3 linked regions of the Homo sapiens genome follow. The protein of the gene in region 3 interacts with the protein of the main gene of each other region in a pairwise test. Each region holds a gene or a part of one and is shown on either strand. Other genes may lie near its edges.

Region 1 (7,026 bases), on a different chromosome or scaffold from region 3:
CTGAGCACAGTATGGGTACTAGGGCCCAGCAATTTGGTCCACTCTGAGACTCCTCTGATGAATAATCTTTGCTCCATGGCTCCCCGTTGGGTTGGTCAAGATTTTGTCCAATCTGCATTGTGGTCTAGGCTATCCTGTCCTAATCCTACTTTCTCTTCCTTTTTATCTTTCACAGAAATTACTCTCCCCAATAAATTGTGTTCCTAACTCTGTCTTTTTTTTTTTTTTTTTTTTTGAGATGGAGTCTCGCTCTGTTGCCCAGGCTGGAGTGCAGTGGCATGATCTCGGCTCACTGCAAGCTCCACCTCCCGAGTTCATGCCATTCTCCTTCCTCAGCCTCCTGAGTAGCTGGGACTACAGGTGCCTGCCACCACGCCTGGCTAATTTTATGTATTTTTTAGTTGAGACAGGGTTTCACCATGTTAGCCAGGATAGTCTCTATCTCCTGACCTTGTGATCCGCCCACCTCGGCCTCCCAAAGTGCTGGGATTACAGGCATGAGCCACCGCGCCCGGCCCTCATATGCCCTGGAGCTCACTTATAATAAGGTAAAGAGAAAAAGGGCCTGGGAAGGCTTCCATCAGAAAGGTCACATGACCACTCCAGGTGGTGTTGCCTTACTGAAGTTAAGCAAAAGAGAGTTTCAGAAAGGCAGTCATGGTGTCAACTGTTATTGATTTATATCTGCCAGGATTGCTGCTTCATTAAAGTAGTATGAATGGAAATCTGGTCACAAGGTAAAGATGGGTAATGGGGAAGTAGAAGTATGGAGTATGGAACATGCATTTGAAAGGCTGGTAGCCAGGTGCAGTGACTCACGCCTGTAATCCCAGCACTTTGGGAGGCCGAGGCGGGTCGATCATCTGAGGTCAGGAGTTGGAGACCAGCCTGGCCAAAATGGTGAAACCTCTCTCTACTAAAAACACAAAAATTAGCCGGGCATGGTGGTGCACGCCTGTGATCCCAGCTTCTCATGAGGCTGAGACAGGAGAATCGCTTGAACCCAGGACATGGAGGTTGCAGTGAGCTGAGATCACGCCACTGCACTCCAGCCTGGGCAACAGAGCAAGACTCCGTCAAAAAAAAAAAAAAAAAAAGTCTGGTAGGAAAAAGAAGGGGAGAAACAGGAGGGTATTGGGGAAGACAGAGAAGCATACTTATTTGAAGGAGCACAGGGAAAAAGGAAGAGACTAAAAACAGCAAAAAATAGAGGCTGTTTATTGCAATACATAGCGCGGAGGTAAATGAAGGGACCCTCACACACATAGCCCCCTTGGAGGATAGAGAATGAGGTCTTCTGCTAACCAAGGGAGAATAAATGAATACCATTCTGATGTGTTAACCTTATTCCAGCCATGGTCAAAAGGTAATGAGGAATAAATGCTTAAATAACTGATTAGAAGGATGCCCAAGATATACTAAATGTCAGACGCAAGTCTTTTATGTTAAAAAAACAAAAACAAAAACCTATGCAGGCATGAATGTACTTGTACAAATACATATATTTAAATACATAGAGCACTGTTTTCCAAACTTTGTGCATATTTGAGCCACCTGGGGATCTTTAAAAAGTACTGATACCTGCCCTCCTTTGATTTAATTGGTATCAGGTGCATCAGGATTTAAAAAAAAAACTCCCCCAGGTGATTCTAATGTGCAGCAAAGTTTGGGAACCACTGGCATAGCAAAAGCTCTGTTAACAGTGGTCACCTGTTCTCAGGAGAATTAATAAAGGTGGACTTTTGAGTTTTTGTGAGCATGTGTTACTTTAGTGGGTTTTACTCAAACAGTACAAAAAAGCGGGGAAAAACAAGGTAATTGGAGAACAGTAGTAGATTTCCTAGTGAAAAATCAAGGCCAAATAAATCATCAGAAGTCCAACTTTCTGTGTATTTCATTTCTGTGATCTTGCAACTTTTACATTGAAAAATCCGCCTGCGGTCAGGCACAGTGGCTCATGCCTGTAATCCCAGCACTTTGGGAGGCCAAGGTGGGCAGATCACTTGAGCTTAGGAGTTTGAGACCAGCCTGGGCAACATGGCAAAACCCTGTCTCTACTAAAAATACAAGAATTAGCCAAGCGTGGTGGTGTGTGCCTATAATCCCAGCTACTCGGGTGGCCGAGGCAGGACAATCGCTTGAACCCGGGAGGTAGAGGTTGCAGTGAGCCAAGATTGTGCCAGTGCACTCCAGCCTGGGCCACAGAGTGAGAATCCATCTCAAAAGCAAAAAGAAAAATCCACCTGAGCTTTTACTTTTCCCCTCAGATCTGTGTGCCAATGTCAGTGGAATTTGAGGAACTCCTGAAGGCTCGAGAGAATCCAAGTGAAGAGGCACAAAGTAAGTAGGGGTGAAAATTTCATTCAGCACCAGCAAAAATACAGGTTAATGACAGCTCAGATTTGCAGCCATGGCCTCAGAGATATTTATAGCCAGGATTTCTTGCTGGTTTTGTCTTTGCTGGTTTCTGGGCTAGAGTGACATCCTAAGTTGGTCTTGGGCAAAATGTTCATTTTGTTCTCTCCTACCTCAAATTTACTGGCTTGGAAAGCCAAGGATTGTTCACTTTAGTTCACAATACTAAAATGAGTCAGTCCTTGTTACCTTGTAAGAGAAAACTCACTTTTGATCTCACTTAACTTATTGGAGGTTATATTGTGAGCAAAGGGAAGACATTTGGGTGAAGTGCTGCCTCAGGAAACTAGGAACACACAGTCCATTTGAAAAGGTAAGTCCAAGAGAGTGGTCTGTAGAAACTGAATCATTGATGTATCTGATTCCCTCAGACTTGGTGGAGTTCACAGATGAAGAGGGATATGGTCGTTATCTCGATCTCCATGACTGTTACCTCAAGTACATTAACCTGAAGGCATCTGAGGTAAGGCCTGGGAAAGGGCAGAGAGGTTCTGATTCTCGAAGTGAGTCAGGACAGTAGGCTGGAACTAGCAGACATGAAGCCATTGTAAAGTGTCTTCCTTGTGTTTTAAAACTCTTATGTAAATATTAAAGAGGTGATATGCTCTCTTGGAATGAAATACTATTCAAAATGAAAGTTTTCTACAGTGAAAACAAGAAGCATATTTATTTATTAATACTTTTTTTTTTATTTTGAGATGAGGTCTTACCATGTTGCCCAGTCTGGAGTGCAGTGGTATGATCTTTGCTCACTGCAACCTCGACTTCTGGGCTCAAGTGATCTCCTGCCTTAGCCTTCTGAGTATTTGAGGCTACAGGTGCATACCACCACCACACTTGGCTAATTTTTGTCTTTTTTTGTAAAGATGGGGTCTTGCAGTGTTGCCCAGGCTGGTCACAAACTCCTGACCTCAAATGATCCTCCTGTCTCGGCCTCCCACAGTGTTGGGATACAGGCATGAGCCATTGTACCCAGTCCATTATCAATACAGCAAGCATATTTTACCTTTGCCAAAATAAATCTTTTTTTTTTTTTTTTTTTTTTGAGACAGGGTCTCACTTTGTCACCCAGGCTGGAGTGCAGTGGCGCGATCTTGGCTCACTGTAGCCTAGACCTCTTGGACTCAAGTGATGGATCCCGCCTCAGCCCCACCAAGTACTTGGGACTACAGGCGTGTGCCACCATGCCCAGCTAATTTTTTGTATTTTGTGTAGAGATGGGGTTTTGCCATGTTGCCAAGGCTGGTCTTAAACTCCTGAGCTCAAGCAATCCGTCTGTCTTGGCCTCACAAAGTGTTGGGATTATAGACGGAAGCCACTGCATCCAGCCTTACATAAGATTTCTTTAAATTCTTTTTTTTTTTTTTTTTTTTTTAAATAAATACCATGTTCCTGGCTGGACACAGTTGCTCACGCCTGTAATCCTAGCACTTTGGGAGGCCAAGGTGGGCAGATCACCTGGGGTCAGGAGTTCAAGACCAGCCTGACCAACATGGAGAAACCCCGTCTCTACTAAAAATACAAAATTAGCTGGGCATGGTGGCGCATGCCTGTAATCCTAGCTACTCAGGAGGCTGAGGCAGGAGAATCGCTTGAACCCAGGAGGCGGAGGTCGCGGTAAGCCGAGATTGTGTCATTCATTGCACTCCAGCCTGGGCAACAAGAGCAAAACTCAAACTCAAAAAAAAAAATTTTTTTTTGTAGAAATAGGGTTTCACTGTATTGTCCAGGCTAGTCTTGGACTCCTGGACTCAATCAATCCTCCTGCCTCAGCTTCTCAAAGCCTTGGGATTACAGGCATGAGCCACTGTGCCCACCCAGATTTATGTGTTCTTCTAGGTGTTCCTGTTTTAGACACAAACAATACTAGGTACATGGAAAATAAAACAACATGATCTTTCAGTCAGCAAAAAGGTATTTAATGTCTTTTCTTAAAGATGTTTAAAAATAGCTTATCACAGGCCGGGCGCGGTGGCTCACGCCTGTAACCCCAGCACTTTGGGAGGCCAAGGCAGGTGGATCACCTGAGGTCAGGTGTTCAAGACCTGCCTGACCAACATGCAGAAACCCTGTCTCTACTAAAAATAGAAAAAATTAGCCGGGCATGGTGGCTCATGCCTGTAATCCCAATTACTCAGGAGGCTGAGGCAGGAGAATCGCTTGAACCCATGAGGTGGAGGTTGTGGTGAGCCGAGATCATGCCATTGCACTCCAGCCTGGGCAACAAGAGCCAAACTCCGTCTCAAAAAAAAAAAAAATAGCTTATCACAAGAGATGAGGTTTAATATGACAATCTCAAAAGGATCACAAGGAAATCCATGATTAGATTCCTCATGGAATTGTGAAGAAATGTCCCAGAGTTGTAGTGACCAAACTTCAAGTTCCATGCAGGCAAGTCAGATCCCTTGTCTGTTTTGTTGTTTTCTGTACCCCGTACTTGGTACAAAGATGCTTAATAAGTAGTTACTTGCGTGAACAAATGGCACCTTTGAGCACCTTGTTTTAGGGTGTCAGAGTCTTTAACCAAGACCCTAGCATGAGGTAATAATCGACAAACGTTTCTTTTAGTTTAATGTTCATTAACTTGATCTTTATTTTGTAAAGTTATTATGTCTGATATTTTCCTTCAGTCCAGTGAAATTAACACTCCAGTTGTAGTAGGATTGAATGATAGGCAAGCAAAAAAAACCAAAATTAGCCAGCCCTTGTTACTTCTTTAGAAAACACTCAATTTTGATCTCACTTATTGGAGATTATATTGTAACTTGTTACAGTATAAATACCTAACTGAATTTCTTGTCATTTCTTTCCTCTTTTCAGAAGCTGGATTATATCACATACCTGTCCATCTTTGACCAATTATTTGACATTCCTAAAGAAAGGAAGAATGCAGAGTATAAGAGGTAGGCATTAATAGTTTCTAGGCCTCTCCTGGATTTGATTAGAAGATAATGTGAAGTTTTTGAGGGTGAAGTTCTGAATTTGTTGCCTGGAAGGCATACATGAAGGCATACTTCCAGGTTTATTGGAGGATGGGGTTATGAATGATGTGGTTTTAAAACCTTTGCGATAGTCTGGACGTGGACAAAGGTGTGTCTGTGGGCACATCTTCCATCTTATGCCCATAGTGTTCTTAATTTTGTCTCATTATAGAAGGAACTCTCCCACTCTGGGATTTCTGTGTTTTTGGAGTTTAATGGGAAAAAAAATTAGACTTTCTCAGATAGTGACTGAAGTGAGATGCTTAGGTGTGATGTATAAGTGAAAAATTTATGTTTTTGTTAATTACTCTCCTGATTAGTGATTTTATACCCTTCCCCTCTTTTTCTCATTTTCTTTTTACTGAAATCTTTTATGTGCAAAGTAATTAAGACCTTAGTATTTAGCATCATTTTATGAGAATAAAAGGAGGCGGGAAAGGTCAGAATCAAAATGACATGTTGGGAAAAAAGTCCATTGTAAGTTCATTTAAAAATGAGTATTGGCCGGGCGCGGTGGCTCACACCTGTAATCCCAGCACTTTGGGAGGCCGAGGCAGACGGATCACCTGAGGTCAGGAGTTCGCGACCAGCCTGACCAACGTGGAGAAACACCGTCTCTGCTAAAAATACAAAATTAGCCGGGCATGGTGGCGCATGCCTGTAATCCCAGCTATTCGGGAGGCTGAGACAGGAGAATCGCTTTAACCCGGGAGGCGGAGGTTGTGGTGAGCCAAGATCCCGCCATTGCACTCCAGCCTGGGTAAGAGGAGCGAAACTCTGCCTCAAAAAAAAAAAAAAAAAAAAAAAAAGAGTATTAAAAAGATAGCATTACTAGAATTATAAGTACTTTATATTCTGCAGGGAATAACAAGATACCAAAAATAGAAACCCTTTTTGCTTTGTCTGCATTGTGTGTTCCTCTGTAGATACCTAGAGATGCTGCTTGAGTACCTTCAGGATTACACAGATAGAGTGAAGCCTCTCCAAGATCAGAATGAACTTTTTGGGAAGATTCAGGCTGAGTTTGAGAAGAAATGGGAGAATGGGACCTTTCCTGGATGGCCGGTGAGCTTCAGTGGGATGTGAATGGTGGACATGCCAGGGAATTGAAGTAATTATTTTCCTTTATCTTGAGCTTCCACTTTAGGGCATTAGGTATCAATTCCTTGGTATCACTTGTGACAATGAGGTATTCCCTGCCAAGTATGCTATGTTTTTTTTTTTTGGAGACGGAGTTTCGCTTTTGTTGCCCAGGCTGGAGTACAATGGCGGGATCTCGGCTCACCTCAACCTCCGCTTCCCGGGTTCAAGCAGTTCTCCTGCCTCAGCCTCCCGAGTAACTGGGATTACAGGCACGCGCCTCCACACCCGGCTAATTTTGTGTTTTTAGTGGGGACAGGGTTTCTCCATATTTGTCAGGCTGGTCTCAAATTCCCGACCTCAGGTGATCCGCCCACCTCGGCCTCCCAAAGTGCTGGGATTACAGGTGTGAGCCACCGCACCTGGCCGTATGTGAGTTTTTTTGAGTGTACTTTGGAGCAAGACTGCCAGGGTCCACTTGCCTTTGACTGTGCCCAGATTTTCACCAATCACATCATTACTGCTATGTGGTTCCTGCCAACCAAGAGCT
Region 2 (7,026 bases), on a different chromosome or scaffold from region 3:
GTGCACATCAACTTCAATCTTTACAATCACTATGCTAAGGGTCAATTATTACCCTCAGTTTGCAGATCAGGAAAATATCACAGATGTTAAGTAACAGAGCTAGCCAACAGGTACAGAATCCAGGTTTGACCCTCTCTCTGGCCACAAAGCCCACACCCTTTTACCTACGCTATAGCAGGGGGCTGGGGAAGAATATCTGGGCTCTGACCTTTCTGTTCACTGTAGCCTGGGGGATGAAAACACAGGCTGAGGCGGCCGTCCACTGCCAGCCGCAAGAGACTGTTGGCTGCTCTGTACACATCATTCCGAGCCGCCTTGGCTGTCTTGTAACCACGTTTCTCTGCCCAGGCTGGAGGAAGAAAAGAATAATGGAAAGGGAAAGCATTAACCAGGTACCAGTTATACTCCCACTCCCATAACACAGTCCTTCCAGTTTTCCCCAAAACATTCCAGGCCAGAGATCTTACTGGCTATGCAACAAAAATCTAGGGGTGAGTGGACAGCAGCTTCATCAATGGCAGAATCTCTGAGGAGAGGAAAGGAGACAGGGAAGGGTAAAAGGCGAGGCAGGTAAGGAAGAGCAGCTGAAACCAGGTGGGGCGAAGCCAGGCACATGGAACTCACCTTCACAGATGTCCCAGGCACACCAGGGGTGTTCCGCTGAGGGGTCCTCAGCCTCTGGGTGGCGCAGGTGGAGCAGGGCCTGCACGGGAATTCGGGAGGCCAGGTAGCCCACAGCAGTGTAGGGCTCCTGGATCTGGGCGATAGGGTAGATCCCTGCCAGAACCTGAGGGAAATGAGCACTCAGTACTTTCCTCAATGTCCCACCTTCTCTCTTTCCCTTACCCACCCTCCCCGTCATACCTGCAACTGCCTAGGCAGAAGAGATGGGAAGATGAGGCCTGGGCAGTCACAGAGCTTCACAGAGGGGGTAAGAAAGTAGGTCTGAAAGTATCGGGTATGGCCCGGGGTTCTGGAGACACTCACGACTTTCCGCCCCACCAGCCCATTGATCAGCGAGGACTTTCCCACATTAGGGAAACCTGAGGAAGGCAAGGAAAATTAACGTTTAACAGGTTTCTACTCTGTGATGGGACTTGGTGCTATACCTATAGGTAAAAGGGGAACTAAGGCTCAGAAATTAAGGAAATGGTATTGCAGAATACAAATCACGCTCTGGGCTGCCAGGGTTAAATCCTGGCCCTTCCACTTACCAGCTTTGTGATGTCAGGGCAACTAACTTTCTGAGCCTCTGTTTCTTCATTTTACAGTGTGGACACCTCCCTACCTCAGGGTGGTCAGGATTAAATGAGATAACCAATACAACTTGTGTGGGTCAGTGCCTGCAGTACAGTAAGTACCCAGTACCAGTGATCCACATCTCATAATTACTATGACTTGGCCTGGCACAGTGGCTCACGCTTGTAATCCCAGCGTGATTACTTTGGGAGGCCAAGGCGGGTGGATCACCTGAGGTCAGGACTTCAAGACCAGCCTGGCCAACATGGTGAAACCCCATCTCTACTAAAAATACAAAAATTAGCTGGGCGTGGTGGTGGGCGCCTGTAATTGCAGCTACTTGGGAGGCTGAGGCAGGAGAACCACTTGAACCCAGGAGGCGGAGGTTGCAGTGAGCTGAGATTGCACCATTGCACTCCAGCCTGGGCAATAAGAGGGAAACTCCATCTCAAAAAATAATAATAATAATTACGATGACTTGTCCAAGGAGAAAACTGGAAGCCTTGGGGCTCACTGCCACTCTGCTCACTCACCACCACCAGTTTTTGTGTTTCTGGCTGACTTCAGTGCCTTCATCTCCCTTCCACAGAGCATCTCCTTTACCCCACCTCAGCTGCCCACTCCCATGGTAATACCTGCATCTTGTCACTTCACAGCTCCAAAGCCTCAATTCCAAGCACCCCTCTCTGCCCTGACAACTCATCTTTCCAGCTCACTTACTCTGGTTACTCCATGCCAGTAAGTCTTTGACCCCTGACCTTAACACAGTAACACTATGCAATACCCAACTCGTGTCCTCAATTTCCTTCTTACTTGACTCAGATTTCATGATCCAGCTCCTCAGCCAGGCCCGTTCACAGACCTGGAACTCCCTGGTCCCACTTCTCCCCTCTATCTTACTCACCTGGCAAAATCCCAACCCTGTAAAATCCAGCTCTGCCCATTCAGCACTGCTCCTGGGCAGCTGACTGTGGCTAAGAAAAGATGTACCACTGTGCTCACTCTTTACAACACATGCAAGTATCTAGGAGGAAGGGAGGGAAGGAGGGAGAAAAAAGTTCTCCTTTGACGACCACCACCAGACCTAGTTCTCTGTCCGCTTTGCAGGAAAACTCCTTAAAAGACTTACCTACTTTTTTCACCATTTCTTCCTGCTATCTTCTTTGTAACTGTAAACTACAACATACAAAAAAATGCACAGAACATACATGTGCAGCCTGATGAACCCCATACCACCCAATGTGTGACAACATGTTCCATCTGTCCTTGTTTTTTTTGTTTTTGTTTTTGAGACAGAGTCTCACTCCCTCACCCGGGCTGGAGTGCAGTGGTGCGATGTTGGCTCACTACAACCTCATCCTCCCAGGTTCAAGCGATTCTCGTGCCTCAACCTCCTGAGTAGCTGAGACCACAGGCGTGCGGCTCCACACCTGGCTAACTTTTTGTATTTTTAGTAGAGATAGGGTTTTGCCATGTTGGCCAGGCTGGTCTCAAACTCCTGACCTCAAGTAATGCGCCTGCCTCAGCCTCCCAAAGTGCTAGGATTACAGGGATGAGCCACCATACCGGCCGCCACTCATCCTTCTTGATCATAATCCTCTCCCTCTATACATGCAAGCTTTATCCTTTTAAGGAAATCAACTCCTTACATTTCTCTTTAGTTTATGACCTGTGTATCTCTCAACAATGCAGCTTAATTTTGCAGCTTTCAAACTTGATAGAACTGAAATTGTGCAGTATGGATGCTATTGGGTCAGACTCTTTTCACACAATGTTATGTGAAGTTGTTGCACCTTCTCTCATGGGCCTACTCCAGTTTGGCTTTCTCCACCCCACTGAAACCACGGATCTTCACATTGCCAAGCCTGCTGAGCAGCTCTCTGTTCTCTCATTTGGCCTGTCAGCAACAGTTGACACAGCTGATTCCTCCTTTCCTCTTCAAACACCTTCTTCATTTGACTTCTGGGACGCTCCCTTGGTTTTCCTCCTTCTCACTGTCCTTTGCCCAACTAAATGCTGGCTTGTCCTAAGGCTCAGTCCTTGACCTCCTCTTCTCCAACTATTTCCTTTCTCTCCTACATCTCATCCAATTCCATGGCTTTTTTTTTTTTTTTTTTGACGAAGTCTTGCTCTGTCACCCAGGCTGGAGTGCAGTGGTATGATCTTGGCTCACCGTAACCTCTGCCTCCAGGATTCAAGCAATTCTCCTGCCTCACCCTCCTGAGTATCTGGGACTACAGGCACGCACCACCACACACGGCTAATTTTCTGTATTTTTTGGTAGAGACAGGGTTTCACCATGTTGGCCAGGCTGGTCTCAAACTCCTGGCCTCAAGTGATCCACCTGCCTCAGCCTCCCAAAGGGCTGGGATTATAGGCATGAGCCACTGTGCCCAGCCTAATCCTGTGGCTTTAAATACCACTTATATCCATCAATGGTTCCCCAAATTTAAATCTTTCCCAAATTCAAATTTCCGTCCTCTTCTCTCCCCTAAGCTGCTGACTACTTACCCACTGCCTATTCAACATCTCCACTAGGGATATTTAAAAAGAATCTGAAATTTCATTTCTGATTCCCCTCTCCTCCCCAAAGCCTTCAAATCTGCTTCTCCCCCAGTCTTCCCATCTCAGTATTTCCAGTTGCTCAAGACAAAAACCTGGAAGTCCTTCTTTATCCTCACTTTCCTTCACGTGCCAACTGCAAGCCATCAGCGATCTCATTTTCTCTACCTTCAAAATATATCATGCTTCCGGCCCTGTCTCACCACCTCCAGCTCCAGCATCCTACTCTAAGCAACTCTTATTTCTCTCCTAGATTACTGAAATAGCCTCAACTGCTCTCTCTGCTCCCTTTCTTGCCCACCCCCCATCATTTATTCTCTACTCAGGAGGTAAACTTATAAGAAACAAAATCAGATCCTATCATTCCCCTGTTCAAAACCTACCCTTGGCTTCTCATGAGACTTGGAATAAAATCCAAAATGGCTGTCACAGCCTCAGGGCTCTACATGATGTGGGCCCTGGTGATCTTGCTGACCTCATCCCCAGTACTTTATCCTGGCTCCCATACTCCAATCCCCTGGGCACTCTTGCTGGTCCTAGAATCTCCAAGCCCGTTCCCTCCTCAAGACCCTTTCCCCACAGTTCTGAATGGCTCACTTCATCTCATCATCCAGTTCTCTCCTCAGGGAGGTTTTCCCTGAGCACCTCTCCTCTCAGTCACTCTCTATCCCCTTTCATTGCTTTATTGCCTTCACTGCCCCTACATGATTTCGGATCACAAAATCTATTTACTCACAAGAAAATAAGCTCCATGAATCTACAGACCTTTTTGCCATTTCCACAGCAGTATGTCCCATCCCTAGAATATCTGGCACCTGGTTAAGTGTTCAGTACATATTTGTTGAATGGGTAAATGAATGAGAGCTGGAGGGAAATCCAAACTCAGGGGTGCCTGTGCCACAGCAAACACTCTCCCTCTCACACCACCTGGAATAGAGATCAGCTAGAGCAGAGGCTGCTAAGAGAGGGAACAGAGGCTCCTTGTGACAGGGAGACTAGGATCAGAAGTCAGGGAAGGGACAGCCGGGTGAAATGACTGGAAAGAGGAGCAATCACTCAGCAGTAAGGCAGGTTCTTCCAAAGACAAAAAGGACACAGAGATAAGTCAGGGCACTTCCAAGGAACCCAACTACCTACTCCACACTCCCAAATTTATTCTGGGTTGGGCCCTTTTTGGTTCCAATATCACCTCAGATACCATAACTTGTCCAAGGTCTCTTCTTACCTCTCCCACCCTAAATGAAGACGGGCCCTGGGTCCTAATCATACATTCCTTTTTCCTCCACTGTGAGCTGAGACAAAGCCCTTAAGAGGAGATTCTCCTTGGCAACAAACTTAAAGGGTTAAAACCTAGAAGAATACTAATTCTTGCTGAGCTCCTACTATGATTTGATAATCACTGTACTACAGACTAATTACTACAATTCAAATGGTTTATATAAACCACTTAAAACAGTGCCTGTTACATAGTAAGCACCATATAAATACTGAGTTTTAACAATAATAATTGTTATTATTGTTATCACTATTTGTCAGGCATTCTTACACTCTCTTAACACTATTCCCATCATTCCTCACATCCATTCTTTTTTTTTAAAGACAGGGTCTCTATCAGCCAGGCTGGAGTGCAGTGGCACAATCATAGCTCACTGCAGCCTTGAACTCTTGGGCTCAAGTGATCCTCCTGCCTCAGCCTCTGAAGTAGCAGAGACTACAGGCACATACCACCACACTTGGCTAGTTTTCTTTATCTTTTGTAAAGATGGGGTTTCACTATGTTGCCCAGACTAGTCTTGAGCTCCTGGTCTCAAGCAATCCTCCCACCTCAGCCTCCCAAAGCGCTGGGACTATATAGGCATGAGCCCTCACACATGGCCGTCATCCATTCTTTTACTCAGGTATCAATGTCCTTATTTTTAAAATCAAAGTAACTAAGACTCAGAGTAGCAAAATCACTTACTCAAGACCTCACAGCTGAGAAGAGGTGGAATTTAACTCAGGCTGTCATGATCCTTCCACTGCAGCAGACGCCTCTTCTGCCTTGCCCACCGCCACTGGCAGAGATCACCCCTCAGACACCCTGGGGCCTAATGAGACCTGATCGCCCTCTCTCTTCTCCGAATATGAAAACTCTGTACCTCCTTGGAGGCCACCACGCACAAGCTGCCACTTCCTTACCCACACAGCCGATGGTCACCACCCCATCCTTGTAGCGCTCTTGGGTTGGGCCAGTTGGCTCCATTGCTGAATCAGTCTGCTGCTCCACCAGGACTGCTGGGCCATCCTCCTCTTCCTCCTCCTCCCCAGAGCCATTACCCCAGGTGGCCCCAGCCACATCCCGAGCAATCTTCTCCCGCCAGCTGCTCAAGTCCACTGCTCAAAGAAGGAGAAGATTAAAGAGGTTCTCCCCAGGGCTGCTGTGCATGATGGCACATACTGTGCCCTGCACAGATTATGTAACTGGCACCCTCTGGAGTTGTACAGTGCCAACCTAAATAAGAGCAGGTCAGAGAATCTCCCAAAAGTCATTTGACCCTACCCTCCCTGGAATCACGCACGTTTCTCTGAGCTTCTGAAAAGTACTGGGAAGGCTAAAGGCAGCAAGCCACTGAGGCTCCTGACTACCTGCTGCCTCTCGTCCCACCAAGTCAGTCTGCTCCTTATTCTGTCCCTTCCCCTGGCCTCTTGCACATATCCACCATAGAGGGGTTGGCTTCAGGAAAGGTGAGCAAAATGATTCTGCATCTTTGGTCTCCCCCATGTCCTCCTACAGCCCTCCTCTAAGGGCCACATACCTTTCCCCACAGTGATGGCTTCACAGGCTCTCAGCAACTGCTCTGGCCCCAGGGCCCGAGTCCATCCTCTCCCCCGCCTCCGACTCTTCTTCAAGACTGAGATCAGAGGGCACAAAAGGATGGGCACACGGGCTTAGGCCTCTCATCTCTCCCACCACCCTTAGGCCCAAGACCAGGTGCCCCCTTGTCAATAAGCCTCTCTGTTCTCCCCTTTGTCCCCTGCCAACTCACCTCTCCCAAGTTGCCCTCTCTCATTGCCCACTCACCACTACTAGGGTCCTGTGGGGTGCGGGGGTCCCGAGGAAAAGAGGTGAAAAGGACGACGTGGAGCTGGGGATAGTGTTGATGGAAATAATGCTTCCAGGCAACCACAAGAGCTGGCGGGGCCAGATCCACCTTGTTCAAAACCAGCACCAGGGCCAGTCCAAGT
Region 3 (7,026 bases):
AGAAAGTCTGAAAATATGAGAAGATGTGATGATGCATGGAAATGGTTAAATCTAAACAAATAGTGACTTAATAAAACGTAACAATTTCTTGTTGTGTTAAAAACAATTAAAATACATGATGGCATTGATGTAAATATGAGGAAGAGATGATCAGAACTAAAGTGTTTAAAGGGCTTTGTTAAAGGGCCTTCTATGTATGTTTCCCATAATTTCTAGGATACTTGCTAAACAACTCGAAATTGGTCGTATAACTTACAGATCAGAAAGGGGGATAATGGAATAAGAAAAAATTAATGTAAAAGAAGACAAGAAAGTAGAGAAGAAAGATGGGATAAATAGCACAAAAAAGGTAAAAATAAATCAAAGCTAATGAACAATTACAATAAATGTAAATGAATGAAATGTTCAAGTTAAAAGGCATAGATTGTCAGGATGGGGGAAAAATCCAACTAGATGGTTTAAAAGAGTTACAACCGGCTGGGCGTGGTGGCTCACGCCTGTAATCCCAGCACTTTGGGAGGCAAAGTTGGGTGGATCATGAGGTCAGGAAATTGAGACCATCCTGGCTAACACAGTGAAATTCCGTCTCTACTAGAAATACAAAAAATTAGCCAGATGTGATGGTGGGTGCCTGTAGTCCCAGCTTCTTGGGAGGCTGAGGCAGGAGACTGGCGTGAACCCAGGAGGCGGAGGTTGCTGAGGCAGGAAAATCACTTGAACCTGGGAGGCAAAGGTTGCAGTGAGCCAAGATTGCGCCACTGCACTCCAGCCTGGGTGACAGAGTGAGACTCCGTCTCAAAAAAAAAAAAAAAAAAAAAAAAAAGAGAGAGAGAGAGAGATACAACTAAAAGATAAGGATATAGAAACAGTTGAATATAAAAGGTCATGAAAAAATATGCCAAGCAAATACTAATGAAAATAAAGTTGACAAATATATTTAGTATCTTTAGAGATAGAAGGCTCCTACTACTTTTGTAATGGTAAAAGACTCAATTTACCAGCTAGATACAAAATTTCTAAACCTGTATGCACCTAATTACATAGCCTAAAAATATATAAAACAAAACTGACAGAATTGCGAGAAAGATTCACTGTTATAATAGGAGATTTTAATACAACCTTAGTATTTTATCAAATAGAAAAGACTTATAAGGGTGTAGTGCATCCAGTAGAACTTCCCAAGATGATAGAAATGTTCTGCTCTGCACTGTTTAATACAGTGGCCACTAGGCACATGTGGCTTTTGAGCACTTGAAATGTTAGCTAGTATGATTGAGGAACTGAGTTTTAAATTTTATTTATTTATTTTGAGACAGACTCTCACTCTGTCACCCAGGCTGGAGTAGAGTGGTGCAATCTTGGCTCACTGCAACCTTGCAACCTCTGCCTCCCAGTTTCAAGTGATTCTTCTGCCTCAGCCTCCTGAGTATCTGGGATTACAGTCATGTGCCACCACACCCGGCTAATTTTGTATTTTTAGTAGAGACAGGGTTTCATCATGTTGGTCAGGCTGGTCTTGAACTCCTGACCTCAAGTGATCCGGCTGTCTTGGCCTCCCAAAGGGTTGGGGTTACAGGCACGAGCCACTGTGCCCGGCTAATTTTATTTAACCAGCCACATGTGACTAGTGGATATTATATTGGAAGCACAGGTACAGAAATGATTATTTTTATTTTTATTTTTATTTTTTTTCTGAGACAGAGTCTCTCTCTGTTGCCCAGACTGGAGTGCAGTGGTGCGATCTCGGCTCACTGCAAGCTCCGCCTCCCGGGTTCATGCCATTCTCCTGCCTCAGCCTCCCCAGTGGCTGGGACTGCAGGAGCCCGTCACCACGCCCGGCTAATTCTTTTGTATTTTTAGTAGAGATGGGGTTTCACCATGTTAGCCAGGATGGTCGCGATCTCCTGACCTCATGATCCGCCCACCTTGGCCTCCCAAAGGGCTGGAATTATGGGCGTGAGCCACTGCACCTGGCCAGAAATGATTTTTTTAATCCATATATCTATCAGTATATAATATCAAAGTGTAGAGACAAAATGAAAACAAAAGAGAGGAGGCAAAAATAAAAACCTATTGGGAATGAAAATGTGTGCATTCCCATGTCTATTGGTTGATGCTGGTGTGTAGACTGAGATTGTAGGTAAGGCCGTTGAACAGAACACTTCATGCACCCTCTTCATGTGGCTTGGGATTTCTCAAGGGATTCTAGCACCTGGCTGCCTGTGATTTGCCCCACTTGACAGAGAGTGGAGCAGAGACGAACCATCCATGTGCCACCCTCCTTTAACTGCAGATTCACATGCAAAGTAGATGATGATGTCTTAAGCCACTAAATTTGGGGATTATTTGTCATACAGGAGTTGATGGTTGGAATAGATACCTAGGGAAAATGTTAAAACATTGAAAGATATTAAAAATGGAGTCTCAAAAGGCTGGGCATGGTGGCTCATGCCTATAATCCTAGCACTTTGGGAGGCTGAGGCAGGTGGATCATTTGAGGTCAGGAGTTTGAGACCCGCCTGGGCAACATGGTGAAACCCTGTCCCTACTAAAAATACAGAAAAATTAACCAGGAGTGGTGGCACACACCTGTAATCCCAGCTACTTGGGAGGCTGAGGCAGGAGAATCACTTGAACCTGAGACAGAGGTTGCAGTAAGCTGAGATCATGCCACTGCACTCCAGCCTGCAGCCTGGGCGACAGAGCGAGAGACTCCATCTCAGAAAAAAAAAAAAAAAAAGGATTTGCATACTATGTTTATGAATTGAAATTCATCCTAAATGTGTCACTTTTCTGTTGGGTGGGGTGACTCATGCCTGTAATACCAGGACGTATAATCGTGCCACTGCCCTCCAGCCTGGGTGACAGAGTGAGACCGTGTCTTTATTTATTTGAGACAGAATCTCTCTCTGTCACTGGAGGGAAGTGGTGTGATCATGGCTTCCTGCAGCCTCAATCCCCTGGGCTCAAGTGATCTTCCCACCTCAGCTTCCTGAGTGGCTGGAACTATAGGCACCTGTCATCATGCCTGGCTAATTTTATTGTCTTTTTGTAGAGATGGGATTTCACCATCTTGCCCTGGCTGTTCTTGAACTCCTGGGCTCAAGCTGTCCTCCCGCCTCAAGCCTCCCGAAGTGCTGGGATTACAGACTCGAGCCACTGTGCCCAGCCATAGATTCCCCAAGTGGGATTGCTAGGTAAAAGGGTTTTTAATGACTTGAAATTTTTCTTCCCCTAAGAGTGTGTAGTATTTTTCATTCCTTCCAGGAGTGTTATGAGAGTCAGTTTACCACATTATAGTCAGCTCTGAATGTTATTCTTTGTGTCTGTTTCATGTTTGTCAGTCTGATGGGTGAACGTGCTTTCACTTAGTTATATTTGGATTCCTGATTGTAAGGTGGTTGTGTTTTCATTTGTTTATTGACTGCCTGCATTTCCGCTTCCATGAATGATTTACAATCTGCAGTTTTATTTTGGGGTTCTTGACCTTTTTCCACTTCATATTCTGTTTACAAATATTCTCTCCTTGTTTTTAGACTTTGTTTATGTTATCTTTTATTACAGCTAGCATTTTCTCCTACTTTGACATTCTAAGACGTGTTTATTGAGATACCATTTACATACAGTAAAATTTACTCTTTAGGCAGATAGTTCAACAAATTTTGACAAATGTGTAGCCAGCATATTACCAAGATAGAGAATATTTCCATCATCCAAGAAAGTTCCCTCATATCCCTTTATAATCAGTCTTTTTTTTTTTTTTTGAGACGGAGTCTTATTCTGTTGCCCAGGCTGGAGTGCAGTGACGTGATCTCAGCTCACTGCAGGCTCCGCCTGCTGGGTTCACACCATTCTCTCGCCTCAACCTCCCAAGTAGCTGGGACTACAGGCACCTGCCACCACACCTGGCTAATTTTGTTTTTGTATTTTTAGTAGAGATGGGGTTTCACCATGTTAGCCAGGATGGTCTTGATCTCCTGACCTCATGATCAATCCGCCCTCCTCGGCCTCCCAAAGTGCTGGGGTTATAGGTGTGAGCCACTGTGCCTGGCCTATAATCAATATTTTTCTCCTATCCCTAGCCCTTGGCAACCACTGATCTGATTTCTGTCCCTATAGTTTGCTTTTTTCCAAACATGTAAATGAAACACAAATGTAGCCTTTTGTGTCTGAATTCTTTTTTTTTTTTTTTTTTTTTGGAGTTTTGCTCTTGTTGCCCAGGCTGGAGTACAATGGTGTGATCTCGGTTCACCGCAACCTCCGCCTCTCAGGTTTAAGTGATTCTCCTGCCTCAGCCTCCCGAGTAGCTGGTATTACAGGCATGCGCCACCATGCCCGGCTCATTTTGTATTTTTAGTAGAGATGGGGTTTCTCCATGTTGGTCAGGCTGGTCTCGAACTCCCAACCTCAGGTGATCCGCCCGCCTCGGCCTCCCAAAGTGCTGGGATTTTAGGTGTGAGCCACCATGCCCGGCCCTTCTTTTTTTTTTTTTTAAGTGGTCTTACTTTGTCACTCAGGCTGGAGTGCAGTAGTGTGATCATGGTTCACTGCAACCTTGAACTCCAGGGCTCAAGTGATCCTCCCATCCTCAGCCTCCCAAGTAGCTGGGACTATAGGCACATGCCACCACGTCTGGCTCATTTTAAAAAAATTGTGGAGGTGGGGGTCTTGCTTTGTTGCCCAGGCTGATCTTGAACTCCTGGGCTCAAGTGATCCATCTTAGCCTCCCAAAGTGTTGGGATTATAGGTATGAGCCACCGTGCCTGACCTTTGTCTGATTCCCGTCACTTAGCATGTTGTTAAACATGTCAGTGATTTTGGTTCCTTTTTATTACATAGTAGTAGACTTAGTAGTCGAAGTAGTAGTCTACTACTAAGTAGCAGGCTTAGTAGTCTTCTAAGCTATATAGGAAAAATACACTAAATATATAATACGGTATATAATGAAGTGTCTTATATAGTGTGTCTGTTTCCTAGGGCTGGTGTAACAAACTGGGAAGCTTAAATAACAGAAATTCTGTCTCACAGTTCTGGAGGTTAGGAGTCTGAAATCAAGATGTTTGCAGGGTTGGTTCCTTATGAGTTTTGTGTTTCTCTCCTAGCTTCTGGTGGTCCCATGTGTTTTCTTGGTTTGTGGCAGCATAAGTCCAGTCTCTGCCTTAATCTTGACATGGCCCATTATGTATTGGTGTAACAGAATACATGAGGCTGGGTAATTCATGAAGAAAAGAGGTTTAGTTGGCTCACAATTCTGGTGGCTGGAAAGTTCAAGATTGGGCAGCTGTGTCTAGTGAGGGCTTCAAGCTGCTTAAACTCATGGCAGAAAATGGAAGGGCAGCAGGTGTGTGTAGAGATCACATGGTGACAGAGGAGGCAAGAGAGAGACCAAAGAAGTCAGACTGTTTCACAACCCACTGTAGTGGGAACTAATCCATTCCTGCCAATGACAGCTCACCCCTGTGGGAGCGCATTAATTTATTTATGAGGGATATGCCCTCATGACCCAAACACCTCCCACGAGACTTCACCTCCCGACACTGCCACATTGGAAATACAATTTCAACATGGGTTTTGGTGAGGACAAACCATAGTAGACATCTTCTCCCTGTGTGTGTGTGTGTCTGCGTCTAAAGGTCCTCTGTTTTAAGGACATCAGTCATTGGATTAAGGCCCATCCTAATGACCTCATTTTAACCTGATTACCCTTGGAAGTACCTTATTTCCAAGTAAGATCACATCCTGAGGTACTGAGGATTAGGGTTTTACTGTATTATTTTGAGGAGACACAATTCAACCCATAACACTGGATGGATCACAATTTTTTCATCCATTGACTGGTTCGTGAACATTTGAATTGTTCCCATCATGCTAGATAATTCAAAACAGAAGACAAGAAGAAACTAGCTTAATCATTCTTTTCAACCTCTTACTATGTGGAAGAGGAGGGGGCTTATTCCTTTGCACAGATTCTCACCTACATTCCTGTCTAGAAAAAGTGCTACTGAGCACAGAATGCTGGGCCACAGAAAGAGGAGACTCACAGACTTAAAGTAGAAGCAAAACAAACATGATGGCATGCATATATCCAGTTTAATATTTTGTTTTGTTTCGCTTGTATTTGTCTTTTACATTGAACTTTTCTTTTAATCTCTTGCAGGAGGATGTATTTAAGCTTTTGTCTCATGTGTTCCATGATGAATTAACTGACTTGAGTAACTAGAGTAGGTCATGGCCAAACTTAAATGTTCAGTTCTGCACCAGTCAGTTTCCTTTTGTCCCATGTTCTCTGGACCACAACCCTTGGCCCCAGCAGTTCTTTCCGAGATATTTCCTCTAGTGTCTCGGTCTTGGTGGCCTCACTGTGGTTAGAGAAGCAGCCTTGAATAAAGTGTGTGCTTTATTCAAATAAAGTGAAGTTTGCAGAGGGGGTTAGGACTGAAGTGAACGTGCAGGGAGACAGTAGGGGGACAGCTTGGGGAAGACTTCCCCAGTGTTGGTTTCAGTAATTTTAGCTTCTATGACAGTGATTTTCCTACTGTCAGAGACAGCTCATTAAAGTGAAAATTATAAGGAAAATGTCAGTAGACTTAGTCACATCATTTCAGTAAATATTTTTTAAGGATTTATTCACCATCCCAGCTGCTAGAGTGCAAAGATGAATGAATTAGGTCTTGTAGGTCCTGCTAAGGAATTTTGTCTTTATTGTGGGGAGCCATTGAAAGTTTTCAAACGGGTGACATGATCAACTATGAAGTCTGGCAGGGATGTGGAAGCAAGATAAGATGTAAGTGACATCTTTTATCATATAGTCCAAAACATTAAATAAAAATAGGTTTAAAAATGAACACTGATACAGGAGTCTCAGAGAATATGCTAAGCATAAAGCATAGGTAACAGAACATACACGCTATAATTTCACTTTTGTTGAAAAAAAATAAACTAAAAGATGAAAAAAAACTTTAGAAATACACCAAAATTCAAACAGCTTCTTTCTTTCTTTTTCTTTTTTGAGACAGGGTCTCACTC

Evidence for each region.
Region 1: the proteins of ZNF212 (region 3) and SF3A3 interact in binary tests that used the Homo sapiens proteins (3 or more experiments, as listed by UniProt).
Region 2: the proteins of ZNF212 (region 3) and GNL1 interact in a two-hybrid assay, tested with the Homo sapiens proteins (one study listed by BioGRID and IntAct).

What each region holds. Positions count from the first base shown.
Region 1 is NC_000001.11:37,980,021-37,987,046, reverse strand, and holds part of SF3A3 (splicing factor 3A subunit 3), read left to right. Parts: intron 1-2,267; coding exon 2,268-2,340; intron 2,341-2,786; coding exon 2,787-2,878; intron 2,879-5,235; coding exon 5,236-5,318; intron 5,319-6,322; coding exon 6,323-6,461; intron 6,462-7,026. UniProt on the Homo sapiens protein: Component of the 17S U2 SnRNP complex of the spliceosome, a large ribonucleoprotein complex that removes introns from transcribed pre-mRNAs.
Region 2 is NC_000006.12:30,546,488-30,553,513, forward strand, and holds part of GNL1 (guanine nucleotide-binding protein-like 1), read right to left. Parts: coding exon 6,863-7,026; intron 6,693-6,862; coding exon 6,597-6,692; intron 6,175-6,596; coding exon 5,980-6,174; intron 1,044-5,979; coding exon 865-1,043; intron 788-864; coding exon 625-787; intron 350-624; coding exon 209-349; intron 1-208. UniProt on the Homo sapiens protein: Possible regulatory or functional link with the histocompatibility cluster.
Region 3 is NC_000007.14:149,242,637-149,249,662, forward strand, and holds part of ZNF212 (zinc finger protein 212), read left to right. Parts: intron 1-7,026.